Linked DNA regions of Homo sapiens. The protein of the gene in region 1 interacts with the protein of each later gene in a pairwise test. Each region holds a gene or a part of one and is shown in the gene's direction. Other genes may lie near its edges.

Evidence for each region.
Region 2: the proteins of MPPED2 (region 1) and CAGE1 interact in binary tests that used the Homo sapiens proteins (3 or more experiments, as listed by UniProt).
Region 3: the proteins of MPPED2 (region 1) and RXRG interact in binary tests that used the Homo sapiens proteins (3 or more experiments, as listed by UniProt).
Region 4: the proteins of MPPED2 (region 1) and BEX4 interact in binary tests that used the Homo sapiens proteins (3 or more experiments, as listed by UniProt).

The regions. Positions count from the first base shown.
Region 1 is NC_000011.10:30,409,182-30,415,683, reverse strand, and holds the end of MPPED2 (metallophosphoesterase MPPED2), read left to right. Parts: intron 1-1,342; coding exon 1,343-1,456; intron 1,457-4,097; coding exon 4,098-4,216; 3' UTR 4,217-5,460; downstream 5,461-6,502. UniProt on the Homo sapiens protein: Displays low metallophosphoesterase activity (in vitro). May play a role in the development of the nervous system.
Region 2 is NC_000006.12:7,386,465-7,395,216, reverse strand, and holds the start of CAGE1 (cancer-associated gene 1 protein), read left to right. Parts: upstream 1-5,474; 5' UTR 5,475-6,015; intron 6,016-8,020; 5' UTR 8,021-8,043; coding exon 8,044-8,238; intron 8,239-8,752. Other genes in the region: RIOK1 (serine/threonine-protein kinase RIO1), read right to left, coding at 74-164, 1,914-2,118, 2,248-2,354.
Region 3 is NC_000001.11:165,441,943-165,450,094, reverse strand, and holds the start of RXRG (retinoic acid receptor RXR-gamma), read left to right. Parts: upstream 1-4,968; 5' UTR 4,969-5,201; coding exon 5,202-5,250; intron 5,251-8,152. UniProt on the Homo sapiens protein: Receptor for retinoic acid. Retinoic acid receptors bind as heterodimers to their target response elements in response to their ligands, all-trans or 9-cis retinoic acid, and regulate gene expression in various biological processes.
Region 4 is NC_000023.11:103,210,777-103,218,274, forward strand, and holds BEX4 (protein BEX4), read left to right. Parts: upstream 1-4,331; 5' UTR 4,332-4,462; intron 4,463-4,905; 5' UTR 4,906-4,988; intron 4,989-5,372; 5' UTR 5,373-5,377; coding exon 5,378-5,740; 3' UTR 5,741-6,470; downstream 6,471-7,498. UniProt on the Homo sapiens protein: May play a role in microtubule deacetylation by negatively regulating the SIRT2 deacetylase activity toward alpha-tubulin and thereby participate in the control of cell cycle progression and genomic stability.

The DNA.
Region 1 (6,502 bases):
ATGAGAGAGTGGCTGTGAGTAGAGCAGAGTGACAGCTACATCAAGGAGTTCCCAAATAAAAGGTCAGGCAAAGTCTTCCTAAGGTATTGTTAAACCTTAGTTAATATAGCTATTGGGATTCTTGTGAAAACGTGACATTGGAGAGGGGAGTGGAGAGACTGGCCTTGAATTTCTTCCTGCTGGTGAGGGATGCCACAGTGCCGTGAGACTTCACTGTTATGGTATAAGCAAGATGCTTTCTCAGATGTTTGCATATGAAATGGAATATTTTCCCCCTTCAGGAAAAACACATGCATGAGGTAATATGCCAATCAATGTAGCTTAAGAATTCTGCCCCACTATTAAAAAAGTTTTGAAAACGCTGGATAGATTTTTGCTGGGGACCCCACTTTCATCTATTTTCAGACTCTCTAGTCACTCCTTAAACCCCAGCGAATATGTCTTTACAGAGACACTAAACGTTCATGTCTGCAGTTTGGCCCGAAAAAGCAGAAAGCTGTTCCTTACTGCCCAGTTATTTCTAAATAATAGAAATAACCTAATGGCGCTGTGGAATGGGTTTCCAGAGATTACGATTTAGCCTTTCATCCTACCTGCCTTCTTTATGCCCTATCCTGCTGAGGCGTATGGATTCCATTCCAGGCCATAATCATCCAGATAGCTGACTTTTGCTATAATTGATGTCAGTTTTTATGGATTTTCTGCATTAAGTGTAGAACTAAGTGGCTTTTACTTTAAAAGTAGTCAATTAGCCCCAGCTTGCTGGATGCCACTGTGAGGTCACATTTTTGCCTGTCGCTGGAGAGGACAGGACCACAGGAGCAACCTAGCTTTCCAAAGCTTTGGTCATCCGGAACCACAAGGGGTAAGACTTAGTGTATCTAAAGAGAGCTGGGTATCTTGTGACCAGTTTACAGGCAGCTCCTCTCAGTCCTTCTTTGAATCATCTTAGAAGTAAACTGCTATAAGAAAGATATAATAAAATAGCGAAAGTAACTGAATTGAGGGAGAAAGAGATATTATGGGACTGCCGGGAATAAATGTCATTGAGCTCATGAAGAAGATTTGAAACCCATGGCTGAATAAATCAAATCTCCTACAGAAAAAAAAATGTTAATTAACAGGAAGAAAAAAAAATGGAAACCAAAAAAAAATTTCAAGAACCTAAAGAAGACAAAGTGACGAGTGAAAAGTTTCTTAAAAGCCATTGTGAGCTTTAATGGAGAGGCTAGGATTACAGATAATGTAATAAACCTTCTGTGAGTTATGGCTTCCTGAAAGTCTAAATGAAACCTTACCTGAAGAAAGAAAATTAAGTGTATTGATTGCATTTTGCCCTTAGGTTTTCGAGACTGGGTTCCAAAGGAGCTTCAAAGAGTGGGCTGTGTGGAGCTGTTAAACACGGTTCAGAGGCGAGTCCGGCCCAAGCTCCATGTGTTTGGTGGAATCCATGAAGGTAAGAACAGCGGAAAAGAATTCAAAACATTTTGTGCCCCTGTCCACTATCTCAGTCTACAACTAGGAATAAGTGGAGTAGTTGTTTTCAAACTTTTTAGCAGCGGGACCCTTTTATAAGATGAAGTCTTATGAGAAACATCTGAATATAAAGCTGATAAATATTTTATATGGACCTTCTCTCTTGTAAACAGAGTGGAAAGTAGGAAGCACGTCTGGTCTACTAACTGCAAACCCTGCACTCCCCCTGGCAGCTTCTGGAATCTCAGGGCTTTAACGAGGAATGTTTGATAACCACTGCTTTAGAGCAACCCCAAGGTATACAAGGAGTCATTTTCTCCTTAAGAGAGTTAGAAGAAATGGTCTGGATATTAGAAGCTATTTTAAGCCTCTATAGTCCCCTCCTACCTGTAAATATTGTGTTTCATATGGAATTAACACAAAGACCCAGGAAGACAAGGCATTCTCTGAAAAATAGCTTAGGACATGCAATGAAAGATATGTAACAGAAGTGGCGGGAACCTGCACATTTGCAGGTAGACTTTTCCTTACTAACCTCAGAAAACTATTTCAGACTTCTCAGAAATCATCGGAGCTATTAGCTCAGGCTGAGGTTAAGCAGAATAATTAAATCTCTCTTAAATAGGAACTGGTCCAGTTGCCATTTTTCTGCCTTTCAAGGTAAGCTGAGTCAGGTTCACAGAACCGAAAGCCTAACAGGAATCTTCAAGGGATCTGGGTTTTCTCCGACCTGCCTTTTTCAAATCATGGGTAACTGGGCTTTGAGACAGACACAAAGCCCTCTTTCAGCAAGCCTAAGGATTTCTGTCCCTAGCAGATTTTCCCAGTTACACACGCTTGTGTGCAATGGCCGTGTTTACGTGGGCAGCCGCTATATTCTCTCTAGCTCCTGCTTATGGCAGCTCTCTGGAGTTACTTATGAATATGCAGTCAAGTTGAGGTGTTTAAGGCTGTGTGCCTGAGGAAGCAAAAAACAAAGTTTGCTTTTTCAAAGCCCACAAATTCAGTGGCTTCCTGGTTAGGTGGGTAATAAAGAGCATATTGAAAATCATCCTACTGAGGCCAGAGAAAATTCAGTTTGCTCCAAGGGCAGGTACCAGCTGAGTGGGTGGAAAGCAGGGTGCAGCTCCCAGAGAGTGGATATCGGCCTGCCCTGGCTTTGAGCTATGCTCCCTGAAAAGGAGGGTACTGCCCTAAGGTATGATGGAGGGAACACCAGTGATGGGGGAATGCCTGGAGGGGAGACTAGGGAGGTGGGACCTCATATCTAAACTAAGCAACATTTCTGGAGGACTGTTATTCTGAAAACAGGTCTGAATTCGTGCAGCATGCCTATGAGTTTGCATTTTATCTTTGAAAAAAATCATTAATTACCTTTAAACTAGCCAGACAATTGGGGAATTCCACTGAAGCCCCAAAATAATAAACTTGCCTAAAAGGGAGGAGATCATATTCATATAAACTTGTCTCACTTTTATTCACTTAAGACAGCTGAAGAGGGCAGGAAGAGGGCAAATACCAACCTCTTGATGGAGAGAGATAACAAGACTTTATGACCCCAGAACTAAACAGCGCAGATTTTAAATGCCTCTTTTCTTTTCTTAAGAGATTTTTCCATTGACCCTCATTAAGTTCTCCACAGGCTTTACTTGGAGAAATTTTAGCCAATGTGGAAAAAAGCCTTTTCAGTTACTTCTCTATATCTTGGTAATTTTATTTTTTTCACAGCTATGTTTTTATATGCGATAAGAGCCTGATACCAACATAGAATCTTAGTTGAAGAGGCTATAAGGCAAATATAAGGTATTCAGGGAAATGTGCCAACTTGCAAACATGCTAAACATTTTATCATATTGAAAATTATCAAAGGAACATATATACCAAAGACCTAGGGAAACAACTTTCTCCCAATAAATCACAAAAGGTTTATATTGCATATGGGAAGTGTTTTTGCTTGATCTAGTATCCAGGTAAGCTTAGGAAACAGTGACCTAGGGTGATGTTTCTACACATCACTTCGACATGTGATTAGCTGACACTTTTGAATGAAATGGAACTTAGTATTAAAGCCACACAATTCAAAAATCATATATGGTTGACTTTCGTAAAGGCAGTTAAGAGATTATTTCATAAATAAGTAAATTGAGTGTCTACATTTCTTAACTCTCAATGCAGTATCCTTTCCCCCCTCACCTGCCCCATATCCCACTTGGAATTTAGTTGTGTTTGCCCCTGAGGAGTAATCCTTATATTACTCATTTTATTCCCTAGAACTCAATAGTTAACACAAGGCTTTGAAATGAAAATCCTATTTTAAAAGGAGGAAAAAAGTTTTTCTTTATTCTCCCTAGTAAAGAAATCACAGCCCTTCTTCAACAAGTTTAGCATTTAAATAAAGAAAAAAAAATTGCTCTTAGTTGAAGGAGAAGATTCTACCATTTAAAGAAAATAGAGTAAAATTGGGCAGTAGCTTCTGAAAGTCATTATATCTGAGGAGGCTCAACTGAATTTCATCTCACTGCCCACTGACAAAAATTTTTTGTTTTCCTTGCCTGACAGCCCTACATTCCATCACTCTCATTTGTATATATTACAGTAAATGTGACACGCTCTCCCCACAGGTTATGGCATCATGACCGACGGTTACACAACGTACATCAATGCCTCGACGTGTACAGTCAGCTTTCAACCGACCAACCCTCCAATTATATTTGACCTTCCAAACCCACAGGGTTCCTGAAGCTCTAAATGCCCTATTGGAATGTGAGGGAAGGTCTATAAACTGCCATTTTTCTAATTATAAACTTACATTCTCTTACTTATTTACAAACCCTGTGAGTTCTTTTTGTAAATTGTTGGAACACAAATGATGCTAGAGGTTGTGCTTCTTATTTTATTTTATTTTAAATGGGGCATCCATTTGAAATCAGAGGAACATTGTGAATTTGTAAAATGACTTCTGTTTTCTCAAAGGCCATGCCATTGTAAATTGTTAGTGTTCGCCAAAGGACAGCCAAGCTTTCTTTTAAAAAGTGATAAAAGTCTTATTTTAATATGCTTTAAGCTGAAAGAAAAAAAAATAAGAAACAGGCAGTGTTTTAAAAACCAACACAGATTTGCACAACTGTTTAAGAGTATTGTTTGAAATATTTTAATTTTCAATGTTTTGTTGTTGTTGTTTTCTTGGTAATGCTTCTTTTTTGCAGATGTGGTCCCAATTTATAGCAATCTTCTCAACAGAAGTAGGCATGGAAAAGACTTCTTTTCATACTCTCACTATAAAGAAAGCTGCATTGAGAAGAAAATGGCTGTCATTTAAAGGATGGTTTAACTAGTGAGATTCCTATTGTGGTTATACAAGGTCTCATTGTTTGTTTGTTTCTTTTAAATTATTTCAGCTTTAAAAATACAGAAATGGAATCTGTCAAGAGCAGGTATTTCATACGGTTAAAAAAATGAACATGCAGACTCCTTTTCAATATGGGTTTATATATATAAGTATTTTTTGTGTATTATGACTACGTTAGGAGTTTATTATTGTCAAGGACAGTACAACTGCAAAGGGATGCTGTATAGCAACACATCAGAAGTCGGAAGGAACTGACACATTCTCTCAGAGCTCAAGGTCTTAAAGAGCTTGAGTTAAATCTAGGTACAGTTACAGGCATGTATAGACTTAAATGGATGCAATGGAAGCTAACTAAAATAAGGCTTAGTTGTCCTTTCTATTTAAATACCCCAAGTTGTCTTCTTACTTCCTCTCCCCTCTCCCATTTTGCACTGTGTGTCGATGCAATCTTCGCTAGCACAAAATATTGTCGCTAATAGTCATTTCTGTTTTCCCATTGTAAATGCTGTTGAGCTTTATTCTATTTTATGTTACTTTGTTAATGAAATTTAGGAAAGCAGTTGTTTCTTTAAATTTATTGTGATATTCTATATCTAGCGGCCTTTATATGCAAATAAAATTGCAAGATTTTTAAATTCGTGCTGTTTAGAGGGTTGGATGGTGGAGGATGGTAGTTTCGTCCTGGGGAAGGAGGGATTTATTCATATGCAACATCAGTAATGCCTTTCAGAAGAATTAGAATAAGTGATTTTTTTCCCTAATTTTCAATAAATTTTTATTACCCACCATTCACAGGCTGGCAGATAGATCGATAAGGCACTCAGTGTACTCTTTCCTTCCATCATGCTGTCATCTGTCTTGCCTTAGGTTTCATCTTTGGCTGTTGTAATTTCTACAGGAACAGAGAGACTGGAGTTAAGGCTGTGGATTTATTTTGGGCAAGTTTGTGATAGTGAGTTTGGGGAAACCGTTGATGACAGAGTAATCACTGCACATTCTCATTTTCCCCAAGAGCAGTCACCATCTCCTCCTCACTTTTGTAATGATGCCCACCCACAAAATGCTGTGGCAACCAAGAGGGGATAGCAGAAGGGTGGCGAAAACCAGAGAAAATAAAAAAGACATCACCCAGAAGAACCACTGAAGCAAAACAGCATAATCTTGGATCTGCAGTGCACCCTCAAAGTCTTATGTGTCAGGGCTCATTGGATTGTATTCTGGATATATGTTCCTTCCTCCCTACCTATTGTGGATCCTTTGGCGCAATTTCTGAAAGGTGTTCTTGATTTCAGTACCAGCAGAATTGACAGAATGTTCTAAGCCAGAATTCCTGCTCAGAGTCACATGTAACCATCTTGGTCTGTTGTAGTTGTTAATAGTTATTAAGTATCTTGGATGTCACCATAGGCTGTGTTGGACATTTGGGTCCAAGCTTGCAGAGCAGATGCTTGAGCTTCCCATGGGCTTCCCAGAGGGAGCTCATGACTGTTGCAGCTAACATGGACCGAAAGAGGTGCTATGACAAGTGGACAACACTTCCTTGACCTTCTACATCAGTAGAAGAGGGTGTTCACTTCAAGCCCCATCCTAGGGGGTTGGAGTGAGAGGTACACTACTGAATGGAAATTTCACCTGGTTAGTGTACTAGAAGCCAGAGACTCAGGCCTCTGGCTTCTG
Region 2 (8,752 bases), on another chromosome or scaffold:
AATAAAATTATACAACACTCCATGGTTTTTGAAAAATGTCCTCTTAGCCCAGTGATGTATTTTGTAAACTCACCTAAATTAATTTTATTCTCAAATTTCCGTAAGACCTTGTCTGCTGGAGTAGACATTTTGGCTGAACTGCTGTCGGAGGTCTGTCGATTTGCCTAGAAGGGAATTCCAGAGTCTAAGGCACTAGCTGTAAAAACAAACCTAAGATTCATCATCACATTTCCTTAGTTCATACTTAGCTATTAAAGCATCAATACTTAGAGGAGTATCTTAAGGAAAGGTAAGAGTCAATCAAATTGGCTCAAAAAATTTTTTAAAGAGCATTTGAAACAGAAGGTTAAAATTACTGACTAAAAGAGTCTGCATAATCCGTTTTTTTAACTTCTCTATGATTCCTCTTATTATAAGTAACAGATTAAAATTAAGTGTAGTTTTCTAATTTGACTGGTTTATAGACTTAAAATTTGAGAATGTTCATTTACCCCCAAAGTATATAATAAAGAGCTAAGACCAGCATTAAGCTGGTTCAGAATTTCATTTTGGGCCCAATGTCTCAAGAGAGGGAAATATTAAGTACGAGGCTCAGCACTTACGCTGGTGCTATGCGCAAACTTCAATAATGAAATTGCTCAAAGCCTCATTATGAATCAGTGAAGGAGTCACCAGAACAAGACGATATAAAAATGCAAAATTTGTCGTCACTCACAATGTGGTTATTTTAAAATGCACACATTCTGGTCCATGATATAGCCATTTTATTGTTGTTGTTTTTTACAGACAGAGTCTCGCTCTGTTGCCCAGGCTGGAGTGCAGTGGTGTGATCTTGGCTCACTGCAACCTCCGCCTCCTGGGTTCAGGCGATTCTCCAGCCTCAGCCTCCCGAGTAGCTGGGATTACAGGCACCCACCACCACGCCCGGCTAATTTTTGTGTTTTTAGTAGAGACAGGGTTTCGCCATGTTGGCCAGGCTGGTCTCAAACTCCTGATCTCAGGTGATCCGCCCAGCTCGGCCTCCCAAAGTGCTGGGATTAGAGGCAGGAGCCACTGCGCCCAGCCGATATAGCCATTTTAATGGTCAAAGGAAGACTGCTGGATTAACCTTTATGCTCCAGGAAGATGTACCATGTTAATCCTATGGCCTTACAAACTCCTAACACACTTGGTACTTCCAGTATGAGCAGCAGCTGTACGTGGTTTGGTAACTTTTTTTTGTACATGGTAAATAATCACAAACATATTCCTATCTCATTAATACAGTCTTCCATTACAACATCTTTTATGGCTGTATAATGCCTCATTGTGCGAATCAGTCCCATAGCAGGTTTAATCCCGTTCAAGGTTGCTTCCAATGTTCCTCTACCATAAACAATCCTGGAGGATCATTCTTGTAACTAAGTCTTGGCACACTCACAGAATCGCTAAGTCAAAGTATTTTGAAGCTTTTAAAGTTTTTATCACATACCAGCTTATCCTACAAGTAAGTGCACCTATTTACTTGACCATCAATGATATGTTTTGTCTTTAACAGTTTCACAGGTGAAAAAACGGCATCTCTACAAATTTAATCTGCATTTCTTTAATTACCAATGAGGCTGAACTTTTTTACCATGTTTCTTAACTATTTGTAGTAAACTGCCAATCCATGCCCTTTCCCATGAAGATTTTAAGCTCACAATCTTTATAACTCTTTTTAAATTTACAGATTCTGGAAAGAATCCACACCCAGGAAATTATCAGAAATACAGAAAGGATGAAAAGTGAAAATCAGTAAAGGCTGAGGCTACAGGACAATATAACATGAAGAAAATCTTTTAGTTATTCAATTTCAGAATCACAAAACAGCCTTTTAAAAAAGTAGACATAAGCAGACTACATAAAGATGTGCAGGATCCTTTATAAAATACCTGTGGGTTGCTTCCTCCATTCCAGACATAACCCTTGGCGAGTTTTCCAACTCCTTCATCCCAGTCCCAGTCATCATCATCATCGTCATAACCCTCCTCCTCCTCATCTTCTATTTCACCTTCACCATTCTCATTCACATTGTCTTGAAGGTCTTCAAACAGAATGTCATCCTTCTCTTTGACTGTCTTCAAGTCTCTGTTTTCACTAGAAATAACAATGTTTTATTATTTCATAACAATATTTCCACATACCCTAACTGATCTCACATATTTATGATGTAAGATATTAAAATATTGATAAATCTAAAAGATTATATATTTATATAAAATACACCTTCCGATAAGCTCCATCTCCTTAAAACCATGTTCTCCTGTTTTCCAGTTCTGTTGCAGTTGTTTGCTCATTCTCCATGCCCAAAGCCTACTATTCAAGAAGCACATCAAGTTAAATCTGCTTCTGCCTTGTTAAAGTTAGAAATTATATTGTTATCTTCTCTGCTGAATAAACAACTCAGACCAGTATACCAGACTTGACTCTAGGAAAATCATTCGCAGAGCTGCTTTAGAAAATCTCTAGGAAAATCTTTCTGTAAAACAAGAAAAAAGAAAGGGGGAAAAAAGGCTGGTGCAGCGGTTCACACCTTTGATCCCAGCTACTCGGGAGGCTGAGGCCATAGGATTGCTTGAGCCCAGGAGTTCACGGCTGCAGTGAGTCATGATCGTGCCACTGTACTCCAGCTTGGGCAACCCTGTCTCTAAAAAAAATTGTAATTAAAAAAAAAAAAAAGCTTTCTGACAAAAAATTTGGGAATAAGTCTAAGGCAGTCTTACTTTGAACTCGATAACACTTTGCAATAAAAGAAGTTACATCAAGATTTGTGTTCCACAAAGAAATCCAAATCATCCCTGTTCATGATGGGAAGAAATGGTGAATACAGGGACCAGGCACTACAAATGAGAGAAGTAGGCTGCACAATAGAAGTGGGGACTGGCAAACTGGGAGAAGAGGTCCAAGGTAAAGGGAGCACAACCAGTAAGGGCTTTTTTTTTTTTTTTTTTTGCCATATTAGAATTCAGGCCTAGTGTTACCAGATCTTAATTTTTCAAGTGAAGCTGTAAGTCTGGATTTCTGTGTAAAATCTATCCCTTCACTGGCATAGTCAATTTTTACAAATAATTGTGCATACCAAACAAAACATGTCTGCAGGCCAAATTCAACAGAGGACTCAGTTTTTACCTCTCATGTACAGAAAAGGACAGAAACCATAAAAAAGCAGCTGATAATATGAGATACCAGCTGAAAAACAGACGAGTTTAAGTAAATTCAGATTATCAATCCCAATTTATTAATTAGCCATGGCTCTGAGGGTTCCCCGTGGACATGTGGAGGAAGAAAACAGACAATCATCAAACACTTGCTACTTACCAGGACTTCATACATATGCTCCACAGATTGATATATAATTGCCTAGAGTGGCATGTTAAAGTTGTAACTTTGCCAGATAATTCTTCGTTGTGGGGGACTGTCTTCTGCACTGTAGGATTTTTAGCAGCATATCTCTGGCCTCTACTTACCAGATGCCACTAATGTACCACCACCCCCAGCTGTGACATACAAAAACGTCTCCAGAAATTGCCAAAAGTCCCCTGGGTAGAAGTCGGGATGGCAACATCTTCCCCAATGGAAAATCACTGGTGTATCCTTACAATACCCTGGGGTGGATGGTAAATTAGTGCCCTCTCATTACCATTAACTACCCACTAGCTATGCTGGCTGTGTTTCTTCTGCTGCTTTTCTTCTCTAAAGCTTTTTGTACACTTCTCCGTAACCATAAAACTGGAATGCCCTTCCTCTTTCTCTGGCTAACCCCTACTCATCCATCAAGTATCAGCTCACTATCACTTGCTCAAGGAAGTCTTCCCTATTTTTCCCCCACTTCTCCTTTGTACTACTTACCCAATTCGAATACAAATAGTCTAATTATTTAATAATATCGGTTTCCCCTGCTAGGGTGCAAGCTCTGTGTCATTCAGGATGGTATTTACCAATGCCTCCCTACCACCTAAGACTAGATCTGACTCACAGAAAGCATTCAACATACATATATTTATTGAAAACATCCCCAATAATTAACAAAATCCGCATGTGATGAATCCTTACTGTAAACATAAAGTACAAGCTGTTTTCTTGGAATTCCAAAATAACTCCAATATGTTTCATTTTGCTTTTAGGCAGGAGTTATCCTTCATCCCTCTTTCCCCAGACTCCACGTCCAGTCTACCACCAAACGCTGCCACTTCTACCTCCAAGACATATCTTTAGGATCTGGGCTCTAGTCCCCACCATCTTTGAATCTGATTACCTTATTATTTTTGAACTGGTCTCTCTGTTCCACTCCCACCCTCCATGAACATCATCTACCTAGAAAGAATGATTCCTTTAAATCACCAAGCAAATAATGTCATTCTTCTGCTAAAATCCCTCCTATGGCTTTCCATAAGACCCACATTAATATCTGAACTTTTCACCATCACTTGTAAAGGTCTCCATGATCTGGCCCCCCTTCTTACTTCTCTATCACCCTACCAATCTTCTCAACTACCTCCACTGTGCTCTAGGCACTCTGGCCTCGGGGCCTTTGCTCTTGCTGTCCCTTCTGTGTGAAATGCTGTTCCCTCTGCTCTTGCCAGGATTAGCTCCTTGTCATTCAAATCTGGACTTAACCTTTCCCTACCCATTCAGTCACCACTTGGTATATCAAACGATTTGCATAGTCTACATCATTATTTGGTTTTTAAATGGTGTGCCCTCTCTTTCACGTAGAAGGTAAAGTTCCATGACAGCAGGAAGTTGGTTCTTCTTGTTACCTCCGGCGCCCAGGACAGAACGTGGTACATATTAAGTGCTTAGTAAGTATTTGTTGAACGCTAAATGTGGTTAAAACGCAAAAACCCATGTTTCCTAATCGCTATCCCCAACTCTGCCTCCCAGTGACGCTAACCGACCTGAGAACCGCAGACTCCCTTGACAAGTAGCTTTCACTTAACTCTGCCGCGTGAACTGGGAGAAAAACCCAGCTGGGATGCAGAAACAGGCAAAGGGTTGTCAAGAGAGACGCTGAGTGATGAACCACTAGTCTCCCTCTAAACCGCAAACAAGAGTCCACACCCCAAGGGGGCGGTCAAGGAGAGAGCCGTACCCAGAGCCAGGGCACTGTACGGCCGCCTACCTGTCAGAGGAGTCCGCGTCGTCGAATTGCCCGGGGACCACCCGGCTCATGAGAAGCCGCCGGTAGTCCATGACTGGAGAGCGCCGCCGGAGGCCGCCGCTCTGCGATGGAAAGGAACGGCTCAGACGGATGTACCCACGGCCGATCCAAAGGCCTTGGCGTGGATATCCGCCTTGCAAACCATTCAGAAGCCAACAGTGGCCACCACGTGCGACGGGAAAACGGGACCGACAGATCCACCACCCTGCCACCCCAACCGGAAGCCCCTCACCGCCTCGCCCGGAAGTCTGACTTGAGCGGAAGTCCCGCCCCTGCGCCGAGCTGGGAGTCCGGAGCTCTCTGGATGGCGCGCTGTATAGGGCTGTGGATGTTCTGTGCTCTCAGGAAGGCGTGTTGAGTAGCCGGCACGGCGAGGCCCGTGCTGGCCGTTTCTTCCCGGAGTTTTCGTTTCTGTACCCCACTTTGTGTTTACTGCGGCAGGAGGCGCCAGCTAGCCCACAGGCTGTTCGGCCTAGGGGGTCGTACCTTCCTAACTTCACCACTCTCTGGGAAGACACCGCACCCACAGTAGGGTCGCTCGGGCCTCGCGGGCTGCACCTGTCTCTGCGGAGTTCCCCCGGCGCGGGCGGACGTCACACAGGGGCGTTCCAGCACTCCGGGAGCCCGATTGCGAGTTTGTGAGAGTCCTTGGTGGAGGAGGTTGGAAAGCGTTCTCCCTCCCACAAAACCCGGTGCAGAGGGAGGGAGAGCCAGGTCCGTAGCGTGGGTCCAAGAAACTATGGATCCTGGAAGTGAGCACACTTTTGTGTCTTAAAAAGTTTGGTGTCTCGTTTTGAGGTGAAAAATGAATGAGATAAGTGCTTTTTAAAAAGGTAAAGTTTGTCTTACAACTGAAAAAGCTTTTAAACAAAACTATAGTTTTTGCGAGTAACTCCCGTGACACCTCTTTTAACTCCTATCTTAAAACAGCTTTAGAATGTCTCTGGAACATCTATTCAAACATTTGATAAATATGTTAAAAATCCAACATAAACCTGTAAGGACAAATGAAAGATGGAAAAAATAGTCTAACTTTAAATTAAAAAGGTAAACTGGCAGATTGTGCAGTGCCACATGAGGGATGAACAAAGTTGTAGAAATGTAATTGGAAGTGCTGGGTTCACAAACAAGAAAACTAAGAAACAAGGCCTTTGCGCTTTTTTGCATTGGGAAAACAAAGCAAGAATTTTTCAGATCTCACCACAATCCAGGCAGCATTATTTGAAAGACAAGGGAGAAGTGAGCATAAAGTTGGGCCTTTCACTGATCCTGACTGGTCTGCTTGGCTTACTTTTTTATATTTTACCAAGTGATGACATAGGTTTGAAAACAACTAATTTTCAATAAACTATTCATTCAGAAATTCAATAAAAGAATCCAGGCAGATGAGTAATGACTATAAATTGAAAGAGCTTGATAGAAATAAGTCATTGGAATGCAGGTTTTATTCAATCAATATTTGCTGTGTAGACAGCACTGGTCCATTTGCAGTAGGGGATATTGGAAAGCCCTAAGTATGCTCCTCTCAAGACATTTATGATCTGTAAACACAAACACTAACACCCTTGAAACAGTGGTGAAGCTCTAAAACAGTAAACGAAATCACCAAGTGCTGAATTGTAAGATAGAGATTTAGAGACTGAAGACATTGTAGGAATTTTGAAAATAGATGAATGGGTAGATGGGAAGGTTTTAGGAGAGAAGCACGTGCCAGGGCAGATGACTGAAGCTTAATTCGTAAGGAACATTATCTGTCTGCAGGGAAATGAGCCTGATCTGAGTAGAGCAGGGGAGTACCGGGTAGGGGATGTCACTCCAGGCTATGGATGGCCTGGAAGGACAAAAATTTATAGAATCAATGTGAGTGGCCATCCTTTCCACTCTCAGCTCTGGAGCTCTGGACAGGCCTGAGGAAGTCAGGAGAATATGGACCAGTGTGGCAACATGGGATGGAAAGAAAGCACAGGTTACTGAAAGACTTTTTTTTTTTTTTTTTTTTTTTGAGATGGAGTCTTGCTCTGTCACCCAGGCTGGAGTGCAGTGGGCCATCTCGGCTCACTGCAAGCTCTGCCTCCGGGGTTCACGCCATTCTCCTCCCTCAGCCTCCAGAGTAGCTGGGACTACAGGCACACGCCACCGCGCCCAGCTAATTTTTTTTTTTTTTTTTTTTTGTATTTTTAGTAGAGATGGGGTTTCACCGTGTTAGCCAGGATGATCTCGATCTCCTGACCTCGTGATCCGCCCGCGTCGGCCTCCCAAAGTGCTGGGATTACAGGCGTGAGCCACCGCGCTCGGCCCTGAAAGACATTTTTAAAGGAGACATGGACGGGACTTGGTATCTGAATAGCCATGCATGATGAGGTAGAGGGATGCCAAGACAAGTCCAGTTTTCAAACACATGTACCTGAGGGAATAGGCGCAGTATAGGAAAGTGAGGAGGGAAAACAGTTACAATGCTGGGTTTGACTTGGTAGTGAGGTGTTCAAGTGGAAGGTATCAAGTAAATAAAAATCCAGGATTTTGTGGAAACTATTAGGTCTCTGATAATATTTTGTAAATATCCTTGATTAAATAACACAGAGATCCCTTCACTTCTAGGTCCAAAGCCTTCTAGGGAGTTATTGGATAGTAGCCAATACTGTTTGTTTTTCTCCAAATCAGTATTTACTACCATACCAAATTACGGTATACTCAGACTAAAATTTTTAATTTTTCTAATAACTTGACAAATGACATTTCAAATAAGGGCAGTGAACTTTGCTACTTTCTTAATGAGAAGAGGGATAGGGAAAAAACTTTTTGTTTATACCTACTAATAGACACATTTTTTTTTTAAAGAAGTCTTCTATTGTTCAACAGTTATGAACAAGGACTATCAAAAATTTTGGTCATCACCTTCAGATCCTGTACATTTTGAAGTGGATACTTCTCATGAAAAAGTAGAAAGCATGTCAGAATCGGATACCATGAATGTCAGCAATCTTTCTCAAGGTGTAATGCTTTCACATTCTCCAATCTGTATGGAAACCACCGGCACCACTTGTGACTTGCCTCAGGTGTGCATTGCTTATAAGTTCCAGGAGGCTCAGATGTATTCAGAATTCACATTGTCTTCCATATGAAAATTTCTTCAAAACTATAAGGAACAATAAAACAATATTCGGTGGACACATAAAGGAGGGGAATACAGGGTCTGGTTTTCCCAGTTTCGCTAGCGTAAGATACATTTTGACCAGCCTGGGCAACATGGTGAGACCCCATCTCTGCTAAAAATATAAAAATTAGCCAGGCATGGAAGCGAGCACCTGTAATCCCAGCTACTCTGGAGGCTGAGACAGGAGAATCACTTGAACCTGGGAGGTAGAGGTTACAGGGAGCCAAGATCGCGCCACTGCACTCCAGCCTATGCGAGAGAGCAAGGTACATTTTTACACACAGTGTTAAAACTGATCCTTTCTAGCCAGGAGTGCAGCCAGGGGACGTGACCAATTCAGTCAGAGGCAGGACAAGAGCCCAAGGAACCTGACTTCTAGTCTAATGCATCTTCCACTTACATCAGTATGCAAATGA
Region 3 (8,152 bases), on another chromosome or scaffold:
TATCACTAATGAGAGAAGGATTGTGATTTCACGAAAGACACATTTACTAGACAGCAGAGTTGGGGACCTGGCTTTTACACCCATTTCTTTCACTACCTAGTTGTGAGACCAGATCCAAAACCCAATTTGTTAGAGTAACTGTCTTTCATTCTCTGATTTCATAGTCTTAATCTCAAATTGCCCATTTGTAAAACTGGGGTAACAAAGCCTGCCCTATTTAAGTCTAGTATTGGGGATAGCACATGGAAACTTAATGTACTATTATGTAGGTAAGGTATTATAAAAATATAAAAATATTAATACATAATATTAGTATGGAGATATTTGCATCTAAATTCTATAGCTAAAGTTTATTGGCCATTGTCAAATGAATGAGTTTGGTTTTTCATTTGTATTTGCTGCAAAATACTATTTTATATCACCACGGGTCAAAAGAGAAAAAAAGAGCAGACGTAAAGCTATATCCTTTGATTACCAGGGTGAATATTAGATATTATTGGCCGAATTTGTGTCAAACAGCCAAACATACTAGTCAAAATCCATGCTCTTTCCACTTATTCAAAGGCACTAATGGCTTTAGTAAAAGTAGAACATATTATTTAAGAGGACTAGTTAACTAGCCTTGACAAGAAGTAGGCCAAGAATTCTTGTGAATGAATTAGCTAATTCCTACTGTAGACTTTGAGCATTTGGTCTTTCACTTGACATCCTAATGAGAATTCAGTAACAGCTGGAGACACAGTTGTGACTGAAGTCAGTGGAGCTGTTTGGGAAGGGCTTATGTTAGAAATACCAGCCACTTAGGATAACGTTGTTATACCAATAATGGTCTTAGGGAAGACACAATGGTGCCAAGAAAAAAAAAAGTGGGTTAAAAAGAAAAAACCACATTCATATTTGTTGATCTTTAGGCAGAGCTTATGGTTTGTTATGGGGTATTAAGCCATATGGAAGGTATCATAAGAAAAGCATACTGGGGTACCGTTTGGTATATTGTTTTTGATGTATTTGACTATGTCAAGCATTTTTGATACAGAAATATTTGTTGAGCACCTACTGTGTGTTTTAGCACTTAGGTGAGAAAACAAAGAGACATAATACATTATCACTATATTTGAAGAGTTAACAATCATGTTATGAAGATAAGACATATTCAAAGGAAAGATAAATAACCATTCCTTGCCATTTCACTGGGGATGCCACAAGGCCATACATACTAAGTGTCACCTGAACACACTGGACAATAAGTTTTATCAGACCTAGGTTAGGGAGACATCTTTTTGGATAAGTGTTTTCATGGTGGGAAATGAGCTGGAACTTGAATGATAGGTAAGAATTTTAGTGATGAGAAAAAGTAAATGGGCATGAACAATGAACTACGTGTTAGTCCTTTTAGTGTTGTTATAAAGAAATACCTGAGGCTGGGTAATTTATAGAGAGAAAAGGTTTAATTGGCTGACAGTTCTGCAAGCTGTTAAAAAAAAGCATGGTGTCAGTGTCTGTTCAGCTCCTGGTGAAGCCCATGAGGCTTTCAATCATGGTGGAAGGCAAAGGGAGAGCTGGTGTGTCACATGGTGAGAGAGGGGTCAAGAGAGTGGAGGGGGAGGTCCCAAACTCTTAAACAACCAGATCCCCTGAGAGCTAACTGAGCAAGAACTCACGCATCACCAAAAGGATGGCACTAAGACATTCATGAGGGATCCACCCCATGATCCAATACCTCCCACTAGGCTCCACCTCCACCATTAGGGATCACATTTCAACATGAGATTTGGAGAGGAAAAACATCCAAACTATATCAAACCGGAAGTTGGAATGAACATACCGTACCCCTACAGTGGGCAAAACAGCCAGATCAGAAGGAACTCTCAGAGAAAGGGAGGAAAGAAAATCAGGAAAATATTAATTCTTTGCATTTGTTTTACAAAGCCATTGTATAGAACTTCGCAGTGTAAAAATGAGCACGTGCCCAACTCTCAACACATCTGATCCACAAAATCAAAACTAAATCCAGAAACCTTAGTGAGGCTGGCAGCATGGATGTTTTTCCCAGAGAGTGTGTATCCCAAGCCTTGTGATTACTGCCCCAAAGCACTTTCCTCTACATAGAGCTCACATGATAGGCCGAGACACCCCACAAATGGTGAGCCTTTTCCATGCCAGGTTAGGATTTGGTTTTTCTTCTGTGAGGAAAAGAAATAGACAATGTACTGAACTTAGAAAAAGGTGAAGAAAGAGTCTATCTGTTGGTGGCTTAACCAACAGATCATCTTGACAATGACCTTGGACAAGTCTGTAGACTGTGATTTTTAAAGAATGGTTTTTGAGTACTTGAGTACTTGGAAAAACCCTTGAAACATGGGTTCACACACACACAAAAAAACAGTTTAAGTAACTCATTTCCTTCTCTGACATGCGTACAATAGAAAACTGTAGATTGTAAGACACTTGCTTCAGATACCACTATGGAGAAAATGGACAATTATGGAATGGGTGATGCATTAGTCTGCGTTCAGTTTTAAAGCTGAAGATGATATTGGAACCCATGTAGCTCTGCTCCATCATTTTACAAATGAGAAAAAGGAGAGGAGCCATAAAGTGACTTGCTTAAGGTTACATCCTCTTCCTCTTTGACCTCCTCCTCCTCCCCATCATTTGCCTCAAATTAGATTACATGTATCGAGCATTTAGTATTTATCTGGCGTATTTCAAGTGCTTAACATGTATTGACTCATTTAATCCTCATGGTAACCCTATAAGGTAACTGAGGCTCAGGGAGATTTACTCATTTGCCAGTATCATGAGGCTGTAAGCAGCGGAACAGGGATTTGTACCCAGCAATGTTGGCTTGTGAGTTGGTGAGTTGGTGCTTTTACTATACATATAGCCTTTCAAGGCCATATAACTAGTGAGTAGCAGAGCAAAGTGTCTAAGGCACTAATGAATGGACTTTTTAGTGATATAAGATGTTGTCTTTGCTATGTCTATGTCAACATTTTTATCAATGAGTCGAATAAGATATGAAAAAGCAGTTCATCAGATTTTCAGAAGTCATGAAATAAGGGTATGAATAAGAAATATTTTGGACAACAGAAGCAGGATCCTAAAAGATTTGGGATGATGAATGAAGCCAAAAAGTTTTAACTTCAGAGGAATATAGGAAGCATTTCATGTAGGTCCCAAAACCAATTGCCCAAGGATGGGATGAAGAATATGCATAAGAGAACACAACTTAGGGGAGGTAGGGGTGGGGAGATTTTTATCGAGTTAGTTCTACATGAATTAACATGCAGAGCTGCCCACCTAATGCAAGTGAGCAAATGGTCCTCCTGTATTCTATATTACTTATGTCCACTGGACTCTCATCCCAGCAACAGTCAAGGCAGCTCTGGGCTCTCCAAAGCTCTTTACAGTGAAGGCCTGGATATTTCTTCCTCCTTTGTGACATGCTTTTGCTTTGATTCCCCATTTTGGCCTCCTCCTTTGTCATCATGACTTTGTTCCTGACTCTGGTCTTTTATTCTACGTTTTTGTTTTGGCTTCTCCTAGCATTTGAATCTTGATTTTTTACTCTGGGACCCTGATTTGACTTACCTCTCTGGCTCTCTATGTCTTATGCTGCATCAGGAGAAAATCTCTTATCTTTTTTCCAGCCCAACAGAGCTCAGCCCATGAAACGGACCTTCAATGGGTATGTTGACAGCACCCCATCACCGTGCCAACACATATACCATGAGGAAAAGGTTTGGACCATATCTGGAGTATTGCATCCAAGTCTGGCCAACCCCCTTCCTCACTGTGAGGGTATCTATGTAAACTGAAGTACATTATTAGAAAAAGGATAGGTTGGGAATAGACATGAACCCTTGGTGATACATAGAATTACTGAAAGAGCCAGAGATGCCTAGGGAAAGGGGGATTATGGGCACAGCAGATCAATCTCAGGATTTGCAGAGGATCCCACTGTGAAAGACTTTTTTGTCTTTCAGGCTTCTCTTGTGTGGCCCCTGGGAGCAGTCTAGCACCTGTGGGCAGAAGCTGTAGGGAAAAGGAGCAGATTTTATCTCTATAAGAAACTTTCTTGTGGTGAAAACTATCTAGAAATGGAATGAGAAAGTGGTGAGCTCCCCATTATTGGAGGTGTTCAAGTATAGGCTGAGCGGTGACTTGTCACGAAAACTGTATGACAGACCCAAACATCAACGGGGTGCTTAGATTCTTTGATCTCGGGTCAGTTCCACACAAGACAGGCTCTGTGTTAGTGAGGACCCAGTGGTGTTTTTGAACAGGCGGCAGGATAACAATGGTATATAAAATAAATGCAGAGAAAGACCTCCACATCAAGCCAACCCCTCCTCCCTACCTGTAAGTTTTCCACCTGAGTGAGCTCTGGCTCCAGCTGCACTTGTCAAACTCCCATTGTTAGAGCACAGATAAATGCTTCCGGCCACCCAAGCAGGAGAGGCCCACCTCAACTTAAGGGCTACTCTATTTTAGTTTTCCGTAGCTGGAGATTGAGTATCACGCTTTTCTAATCTTGTGCTTCTGAAAGGGCCCTGTTCTCTCTTGAACCCCACCCCCTCCTCCTTTCACAGATCAAATACCAAGTACATTGGACAGATAGAAGTTCGAATGAGAAAATGCATTTTAATAAAATCCCATTGATTTTTGTGGATGTAAGTCAAGGAACAGGCACCTAAAGAGTCTTCCATCCCCTGCCGTCTCCCGCCTCTCTCCTGACCTACACCGGGCGGTCATACATCGATTGGCTTCCTAGATAATAGATCGTGCCACCCGGTAGGGACCTCTGGGGACGCGCCGGGAGCTGGAAGAGTCGCACGCAGCAGCCCAACCCTGAGTTAATCAAACTAGCAACAGGATCTCAAGCAGCAGCGACGGCGGTGGCAAGAGTAGCGGTGACGGCGGCGGCGGCGGCGGCGGCAGCATTATGCGTGATTACTGACAGGCACCAGCTGCTGCCGCCACAGCCGTCTCAAACGCACTATGTGGACTCTCCGATCTAGAGGCAGATTCCTGACTAATCCCAGAGGGCTGGCCCAGCCTGTGCTCCCCGGGCTGCTAGGAAGCGATGACCACTCTTGTTAGCCCAAGTTGAAGAAAGCCGGGCTGTGCCTGGGAGCCGAGAGAGGCGGTAATATTTAGAAGCTGCACAGGAGAGGAACATGAACTGACGAGTAAACATGTATGGAAATTATTCTCACTTCATGAAGTTTCCCGCAGGCTATGGAGGTAAGTATCTCCCTTGGGCTTCACTGCGTGGACCTGTATGAGAGACTGAGAAGAAATTGGGAAATACGAATGACTGGATTAGTATTGAATTAAAAGGAGAACATATATGTTTATATGCATATATAGTGTGTATATAGCGTTTCAGCGTGTGTGTGCACGCGTGCATGAGAGAGGAGAGGAGGAAAGAATGGTCTGTAGGTGAGGATACGTTTGCATATCAGAATGAGGATACGGGGATATTCTAAGGAGAGAGTAAACCAACATGCTTGAGAATGTGTCTGAGACAAAGATAGAATAAGAGCATTGTTATAACCCAGTGTGTTTGTGCGGGTGTGAAAAGTGGAAGAGTTAACGGGGAATTACTATGATGTTCCTATTAGCCAACTTGTAATGAGAAAAAATGTGATTAAAAAGGTTTTGCCTATCTTGAGGGTTCCTGGGATACTTTGTAACAAGGGCATGATTGTTTTACTCAAAAGCAGATTTCCCTTTAATTGGATTTTTAAAAAGAAAACATAGTGCTTTAATTTGCTACTGTGTTTTCCTTCCCCTGTTTTCTTTCCTTTGATTTGCTAATAGCCTCTTCTCTCCTCCCCTGCTGCTGCCCCCAATTCTACTGCAAGAGTTGCTGCAATCACTTCCACTCTGGGGGTAGAGATCTGGGGATGGGGGGTTGGGGCTCTTAGAGAATTGGCAAACTGAAGATTCAAGTCACCGTGCCAGGCAGGGCAGCCCAGTCACACTTCACAGAAGCTTCCGGAGACTAGGTCCTCAGGCTGCCTTAACGCCCAAGCACATCCGTCCCAAGGATCCCTTGATTTAGTGACAGAAACAGTACAGCCGCCCAGCTCTGAGTAAATGGAAGCAACAGCTGACCAACTGGCCTGTCGCTTGTCAGTTGGAGGCATGCAGCTTATGTTGCTGGGAGCCAAAGAAAGATTCTGGCAGGCAAGACAGCAGAAATTCTTATAAGGTTTTGAAAATTGAAAAGTCCCTGCTCTCCAGACTTCCTCCGTGGACCAATTCATCTGAAGGCTTGGGACTAAAGCTTGCCTAACTTGGCTGGGCAGAACCCCCTGGGAGGCATGGTGACACACTGCAAGGTAGAAGTGATCTCTGTCACCAGGAGGTGTTAGACCTGGGAGTTTGCACATTCATTCAGGGTAGTTTTTATGAGGCAGGCATGGTGTTGGGCACTGGGAATACAAATATGAATGAGACACAGTCTCTGCCCTTTGGGACTGGGGCAGGCTTGTTACACAGGCACATTATAATACTGCATGATGTGTGTAATAGCAAACGTAGGTTGTACTTGGACTTGGGGTGAGGGCCATGGAAATGTTCCCGAGGTGATGTTCAAGTTCTTTGGGCCAGTCTGATGACAGAGTGAGAGCGGTGGCCAATGCTGTGACCTGGGCATTTGATCTCTAGTCTATGGTTGGGCTCCAGATGTGAAAAGCCTCCTCAATTCCCACCTCAGTCCCATTCAGAGCTGAGAATTGCTTTTTCCTTTACATCTTAGTTCATTTGTAAGAGGTGCATGCTCATTTTCAGCCAGATTCGTGGGCCCCCCAAGGTCTGTGAGACTGTGGCTTCATTAATGCCAAAGAGACCCTTGGAGACAGTTGGGGTGAATAAAAGGGTTGAAGCTAGAAGGATTTAGGGAGAGAACTAAAGTAAGAGCCAGAGAAAGAAGATCTAGTTAAAATTCCATGGGGGCTGGAATCTTGGAATGTTAGCATCCTAAGGACCTGAAACAGCATCTTAGGCTCTCATCTTATAGATGTGTAAACTGAGGCTCAAAAGAAGGCAGGGACTAGTCCAAATTTATATGGGGCTGAGCTGCAGAACACTTCCAGAAAAGCCCTTACTCAAATTTATAATATTGTTGCTTTAATATAGTGAAAAGAGCACCAGGAGGAAGAGGAGGCAGGAAGAGGTAGTGTGCTGAGTTTGGTTCCCAATTTTTCACCTAGTAGCTGTGTGACCTTAGGCAAGCTAGTGAACCTCTCTGAGCCTTAGCACCTTTCTCTCTAAAATGGGATTTATAATCTCATCCTTAGAGTATTGTGAAAATTAAATGAGTTAGCATGTGAAAAACAGCTGCTATAGTGTTGTCCATATATTTGCTACCTAATACAATATTTTCTTCCCCTCTATTTTACTCAGAGACTAACATGCAAAATAGTTAAAAATCAGACATTATTGTAAAATAATAAATAAGGAATCTGGGAAAATAAAATTAAATCCACAAAGACCCTCATATTTTGCTGGCATAGATTTTCATAATTGTGGGGGCTCTGATATTTAGCGTAATTAGATTTCAGATAGAAGTAAACACAATGGTTCAGCTATGGAAGGAAATAGTTCAGTATAGTATAGGGAACTTGAGGGGAAAGGGTCATGTAGGTTGTCTACATGTCTCCTGTAAAGCTACTTTTCTTTGTCATTCTTGAGGGAGGAGAAGAATTATTTTGTTTAGTTCTGTTGAGGTTTTCCATTTTGTTGGCATGTGCCAGTTAAGAGGAGGCCTAAATGCTGAGCCAAAGGACTCTGCCCCCGTCTGCAGGGAGGTCTGTTTGAGAACTTTCTGTGATGAGGGAGAGGGACAGAGGACTCACAAGCAGGCACAGGGGAAAGCAGGATTAGAGTGGACGTCACCTTTGGCCTCTAACCTCCCCTGCCACAGTGCAGCAAGTTGCACGGCACTTATTAAAATACTTGGTGTATAACCCCCTGCCCTGTTACATATTAGCACATGGAATTACAGAGGGCCCCATGATTTGTATAAGAATCTCCAGGGAAGCAAAGTCACCTTTTGGAAATAACACCTGAGATTTGTGTCTGGGACCATGCTTACCAGATGTCAGAGCATCATCTGATCAGTGAGCAACAGATTGCT
Region 4 (7,498 bases), on another chromosome or scaffold:
GAAAGTGTCCCGAGCACCGGAGCTCTCGTTCCTGTGGAGTTGGGGTGTACTGCCCTCCCGGCAAGCTGATGAGTTCTTGTTTACCTTCTTGCAGGCCTCCATGAGTTTACCTGTCCAGAGGCTCTCTGTGTCCCATCCCCTTGGGCCTTTTATCAAGATGTCATTAGATAGGCAGGGCTATCATGGACAACCATGTAAAAATGTGATTGAACAAAAAGGGTATAATCTAACACTATTAGACTGAGTAGGGAAACCCAGCAAGGCCTGACTATTCAGATTCTTCTTGGCCTCTCTGTGCAGCATTTCTTCATCCTGGGTATGGGGGAGGACCCCTTCTGAATTGGGGTCTTATTGAGGTAGAGACCCACAGGATTTATTTCCCTGGTCCTGACAGATTAAAGTGAAGAAACGCAAAAACCAGCAGATGGCGACAAAAGCGATCTCTAGCTGCTCTCATTGCTCATTAGTATAAGACGCTCCCACCCAGTGCCACAGTTTACAAAATGCCATGGCAATGGCCCAGAAGTTACTGCTCCTTTCCTAGAAAGTTCTAAATAACCTACCCTTCAATTTGCATTAACCCACTCCCTAATTTGTGTGTAATTGAAAGTGGGAATAAGTGAGTATAAATATAGTTGCCAAGAGCTCATATGTTGCTGATTCTGGGTGCACTGCCTTTGATTTAGCCCTGCTCCACAAAGAGCAGTACTGTTCAAAAACAGGTTGTTGCCCAACACCACTAGCTCACCCTTGATTTATTTTTCGGGGTGAAGCCAAGAAGCCTCCCTGGCTAAGCCCCAAATACGGGAGCTTCCCATTCCTGCATCATTATGACCTACAGTCAGACAAGGTAAATCGGAGAATTTACTTATGGCCACCTCCAAGACAGAAAGGCAGGGGAAAACTAGAGTATATTTTTAGTTTATGTGGTCTGCCTTGGAGAGAAAAAAGGAGTAGGTGAAAGGAGAGCAAGAGAAGGTCAGGGAGAGAAATTCTGTCTTTTGAGGCCTGCTTCTGAAGCCTGAAAGAGCCCCAACATACACGGAAAGACAGTCTTTTTTTTTTTTTTGAGACAGTTTTGCTGTGTCGCCCAGGCTAGAATGCAGTGGTGCGATCTCGCCTCACTGCAAGCTCTGCCTTTCGGGTTCACGTCATTCTCCTGCCTCAGCCTCCCAAGTAGCTGGGACTACAGGCGCCTGCCACTACACCCAGCTAATTTTTTGTACTTTTAGTAGAGATGGGTTTTCACCGTGTTAGCCAGGATGGTCTCGATCTCCTGACCTCATGATCCACCCGCCTCAGCCTCCCAAAGTGCTGGGATTACAGGTGTGAGCCACTGCGCCCGGCCAAGAAAGACAGTCTTTTATGTTTATGGTTCTGAAGCTGTTCCGAAACAAAAGGCCAAATACTTTAATCAAAGATATGCTGATTGTTCTAGCCACTTAGGAAATAACAAAGGCTATGGGAATTATGAGCCAAAAACCACAGATGAATATGTGTATCTCACAGTACCTGTAAGTATAAAATAAAGAAAGAGGTTTTATGCACACCTTTTTTTTTTTTTTTTTTCAGAGAGACCTGCCTCGGCCTCCCAAAGTGCTGGGATTATAGGCGTGAGCCACCACACCTAACCTTTATCCACTTTGTTAGGGACAGAGTGGGTCTCTGGCTCAACAAAAAGCCCAGATAAATCAATGGGGCTTTGGCATATTAGGTCAGCAGAAGGGAAAAGGCCAGTAGAAGGGACAGCAGTATGCAGTAAACATGGAAGTACCTAGGGGAGAAGGAAGGAGACACAAAAGTTGGAGGCACCTGTAAGCCAACTGGACTTGTTTCTGAATACAGTTTAGATAACCTGTAGACACATCTATGCCTGACGGTATTCAGAAATAAAATCAGTAAAACTTTCAACACGACAGCAGAGCATTAAACCAGGAGTAGAACTCTTCTGACATCAGGGCCCTGTGCCACAGCACAAGTCATATACCTATGAAACCTTCCCTGGCTGTGTGTGTTGGCTGATAACAACTTACATCTTTTTTCGGGAGGAGTGAGGGGACAAGGTCTCACTCTGTTGTCCAGGCTGGAGTGCAGTGGTGCTGTCATAGCTCACTGTAGCCTTGACCTCCCGGGCTCAAGCAATTCTCCCTCCTTAGCTTCTCAAGTAGGCGGGACCAAAGTTGCGTGCCACCACACCCAGCTAAATTTGTGTGTGTGTATGCGTGTGTGTGTGTGTGTGTGTGTGTGTGTGTGTATGGAGATGGGGTTCTCCCTATGTTGCCCAGGCTGGTCTCAAACTCCTGGGCTCAAGCAATCCTCCTACCTCAGCCCCCCAAATTGCTGGGATTACAGGCCTGAGCCATACAACTCACATTTTACCTCTTCTCCAGGGAATTGTTCTCTGCCAAATGGGAGCCACCTTGCTCCAGAGACTATGCTCTGCTCCACCTACAGACTTTGATCTGTGACTGACGCTGAGCTACAAAAAGCCAGTGACTTACTGTCAACGTGGGATGACTTGTGTGTGCTTCAGAGTTTTCAGGTGCGATTAACTAAACTTAATCTCTAGTTAAACCCCATTCTTCATCACTGCCCTGCTCCCCAGCCCTGTCCTGCTGCCTTTACTTCCTTTAACCTGAGAGAGCATTACAAGAAACTACATTCATAAGGATCTCTGTTCCAAGTTCTGCTTCTAGGGAGCCCGACCTAAAATAGGAAGGGTCTCTTTATAGAAATATTTCAGCTAAAATCCCAAAAAGAGGAAAACAGAAAGAGTCTTTGCTTTCCCTTGGACAAACTTGAATTGAAATTGAACCCAAATTCCAGGATGCTTTTCTAGAATTAGTTACCATCTTATAGGAACCACAGAGTAAAGAGATAATGTGTTAATGACACCACTGAGATCCAGACTGTAGGAAAATACAGAACAAATGACTATTTCATCAATAATTAAAGAAAAAATTAAAAAATGAAAACCCACAGATTAAAAGAAATTTAGGAAATTTGGCAACCAATCAAAATGCGCATATCTTATTTGTATCTTGATTCAAACAAACTGTTAAAAAAAACTATAATACAATTGGGTATTTGAACACAGATTAGACATAAAATGATATTAAGGAATTGTGAATTATTAAATGTGACAACAGTATTGTGGTTATATGCTAAAAAGAAGAAAACCCTTATCTTGTAGATACATACTTTGAAATATTTATGCCTAAAGTGATATTATGTCTAGAATTTGCTTCAGAAATAATTTTAAGGTTGGGAAGCGGGTAAGATAAAGACGAAATAAGATTGGCCATGAGTTGTTAACTGTGGAATCTGAGTGAGGACTAGTACATGGGGTTTGCATTATACTATTCCATTTTTCCAAATGTTCGAAATTTTCCATTAAAGTTAAGATAAAGTTAAACTATAAAGACTGTTTCTTAAACAAAAAAGGGGCCGGGCGCTCACGCCTGTAATCCCAGCACTTTGGGAGGCCGAGGCGGGCGGATCACGAGGTCAGGAAATCCAGACCATCCTGGCTAACACGGTGAAACCCCGTCTCTACTAAAAATACAAAAAATTAGCCGGGCGTGGTGGCGGGCGCCTGTAGTCCCAGCTACTCGGGAGGCTGAGGCAGGAGAATGGCGTGAGCCCGGGAGGCGGAGCTTGCAGTGAGCCGAGATCGCGCCACTGCACTCCAGCCTGGGCGACAGAGCGAGACTCTGCCCCACCCCCCAAAAAAAGGAACAGAACAGAAAGGTATTAAGAAGAATTAGAAAAAAAATCCACTGTCCTTGACTCATTTCCTGTCCCCCCCCAAACGTTCTGGTGTGGAGAAAAGGATGAGCATTGGTAACAAGTACCACAGTTTGCCATTGGGGTGGGCGGGACTGATGCTCTCTTTATTTAAATTTTTGACATCTTGCTCATCATAAATTTTCTTGCAATAATTGTTTTTTAAAATGTTGCATTAAAATGTTATTTTTCTTGACTGCTGAGGAATTTTGCACCCCTTTAAATTCTGCGCCCGCGTCCTGGTTGGGAGATGTGGGGAAAATCCTGGGAGCCCAGGACAGGGAGAGGCAAGTCCCCACAGAAGTGGGAATGGCCAACAGCTCCCTGAGAAGACAGCTTCCCTCTTGGGGAGGCAGAGGAAGTCCCAAGAATACACAAAGACAGGAGAGTGGAAGGGCCGGCCAGTCTGGAGATACTAAAAGAGACTCCGGATGAGGATAGGGGCTGACCCGAAAGCCCCGCCTGACTCCGGGCTGCAGGAGGGGGCGTGGGACGGGGGCGGAGCCGTTGGCGATGACAACAGCCCCACGTGACCGGCCAACACTGAGTGTTGTCTCGCTCTGGCGTCAGAGCCGTCGTGGCTCGTTCCATTCTCGGCGGTGGTACCTGCTCCCGGTGGCCCTGAGGACGTGTGGGCCAGGGGCGGCCCCGAAATTAGGAAGCGGAGGGGGAGCAGGTAAGGAACCCGGCGGGGGGTCCCTGGGGTTGGTGTGAGGGAGTGGCTCCGGCCTGCGGATGCCCACCCCGGGGGAGCCGTGCGGAGAAGCAATCGGTCCGCGATGCAGCCCCCGGGCCCCGCGGCGGGCCCGCGAGCCTTCCTTGAGCGGAGAGGTGCCCGGCCCGGAGGGAGCCGGCGGTCCTGGGGCTACGACCCTTCGGAAACACCTGCCTACGCCATCAGCGCAAGCTTTTCCGACACCCCTGCCCCGCACTTCTTGGTGCAGAAAATGGTGGTCAGCTTGCGGGGCGGGGCGGCTGAGGCGGGGGGCGAGGGTGGCGAGGAGGGCCAGGGCCAGGGCCAGGGCCAGGGCCTCGGGGCGGGGCGGGGGAGGGGCCGGATGGCGGTAGTTCCTAGCTAGCGTTCTGCTGCAGCAGCCCCCACTTCCCCCACCCCGGCAGTCTGCAGGTCTGCGGGGCTAAGTGTCGCGGCGGCGCACCTCGCGTCAAGAATCCGGAGGAGGAGACTGCAAGGATAGGCCCAGGTCGGTGCGAGGGTCGGTGGTGAGGCGGGGGCCGGAACGTGAGGAAAGCCCAGTCTGAGACCCTAATCCATGCCTTCACCCTCGCCCCCCTCTACCCCATGCAACCCTCCCCTTCCCACACGCCATCCTCGTCCTCCATTTTGCTGCCTGCGGAAGCCTGGAGATGGATCTACAGGGAAAATGGTGGGCTTTGCGGAAGGGAGGGGCTCGGATTGAGGGCACCCCACAGGGCATACTGGCTTCTCAGGTGGAAAAAAATGAAATGTTAGAGTATAAAGTCAAGTCCAGGGCTCTGAATTTTAAAAGGTGCCTAGTAGGGCCTCTGTCCTCAGTGCTTATCAGTCCACCAAGAATTCAGCCCATTTTCTCTCTCTTGTCTCCTAGGAGTAATGGAGTCCAAAGAGGAACTAGCGGCAAACAATCTCAACGGGGAAAATGCCCAACAAGAAAACGAAGGAGGGGAGCAGGCCCCCACGCAGAATGAAGAAGAATCCCGCCATTTGGGAGGGGGTGAAGGCCAGAAGCCTGGAGGAAATATCAGGCGGGGGCGAGTTAGGCGACTTGTCCCTAATTTTCGATGGGCCATACCTAATAGGCATATTGAGCACAATGAAGCGAGAGATGATGTAGAAAGGTTTGTAGGGCAGATGATGGAAATCAAGAGAAAGACTAGGGAACAGCAGATGAGGCACTATATGCGCTTCCAAACTCCTGAACCTGACAACCATTATGACTTTTGCCTCATACCTTGAATCCTAAAAGTTTTCGCTGAGGTTAATGTGAACACTGCTTTACAAGCTTGTATTTTTGTGATTTACTTTTTCTGTAAGCCTTTTGGGGTTTACACTTACCAGTTTCTAATGGAAATTAGAATTCTAATTGAATATTGTTTTGTCTCAGCCTAAAAGTTACGGTCAGCATGGCAATTCACCTATTTTAGGAAAAATACTCTTTTCATAATATGAAATGCATAAAGCAGTTCAAAAAGCAGTCTGTATTCCATCATCTTCCTTTTTCATTCCAGTCCTTATTTTTGTAAGTATTACTTTTCCTCCTCCGGCTACCTGGACTCAAAATCTCAGTTGTCTTTGACAGTTTTTTTCTTGTCCCTGACCAAAAAAGAATGATCATACCCAGAATTCAATGTTTGATATTTTAAGAATGTATGTTCTAGTGTTTTTCAGAGTGAGTCTACCATCTGTATAAAAACACCTTGGGGGCAGGCAGGGGCATTTAAAAATGTAGGACCTATCGTCCAGACTCACAGAGTGGGGCTCCAGAATCTCCATTTTTAACAAACTCTCTTAAGTAATTCTGATGTGTACCAAAATCAGTGCCATTGGTGTGTGTGTACGTAACTATATACATATGTGTGTGTGTGTATATATATAATGTGTCATAACCGTAAACAATAAACAATATCAAGATAAATCTGACTTTGATGGGCAAGTAATTAAAAAAGAAAAGTATGAGACCTTAAAATAAGACTGATGATTATAGGAGTGGTAGGGACAGTGGCAAAGTTATTCACTGTGCAAAGCAAAACATGCCTGAAGGTCACAGCCTGAGGAACTCAGAATTCATCACCCCTGTCAGCAGTTTCACATCCAGGATCTCATTTTATTCTTAGAACAACCTATAAAATCTGTATTGTTATCCCACTTTTACAGATGAGGTCACTGGGGCTTAGAGATGTTAAGTACCAAGGCTAACTCCTGCTGAATATCTTGGGGGTGGGGGAATCCAGCCTGGGCCATTTTCTATTGGACCTTATCATCTGGAGATGCAGAATATTTGACTTTTGTAACTTGATGACAAGCTGAGGATGGTAAAAGAGACTCAGCAAGAATGGGGCTGTTTTTCTATACACTGTTTTTCTACATCTCAAGTACACTTTAATTTTTAGAATATTGAGGGATAAAAAAAGTAAGATCCTCTAGTGTTGTTCAAAGTTAGGATTGCCACTCTATGGCTCTTGAAATCAGTTTTGTGGGTTACAACAAGCAATTTTTTAAAAAGAGAACAAAAGTCATCCTATCACCCGTGAGTAGTGTTAAGAATTGTTTTGGAGAAAATAATGTGTTCTATGTAGTAAATATTGCCACCTTTATGATGTATTTCTAACTAGATCACAGTGAAAAAAGAATGAAAATCACTTATTTGGTGCAAACTTGGTTTCACAAGTGAAGAATTGTTAAGAAAGCGATTTTTCCTAAGGTCATACAGCCAATTAGTGAAAGCTGTGACCACAGCCTTGGTGCTTCAGGGTGCTTGTCTTCTCACCACATTGCCTCCACAAAGAATTATTTGGAAATTTTTGCATTATGTACTGATTGCCAATCAGTGTAAATGGAAAAGCATATACAACTTATGCAAAAATCACTTTATATGAACTTCACACTATTTAGTCATCAGAATTCCTGCATGTTCAACTGAGAACCACATTTAAGGGAAACTCTGCCTCAGATAATTTTGGAGCTGGAGTGATCTTTCACCTGTCTAGAGGAAGA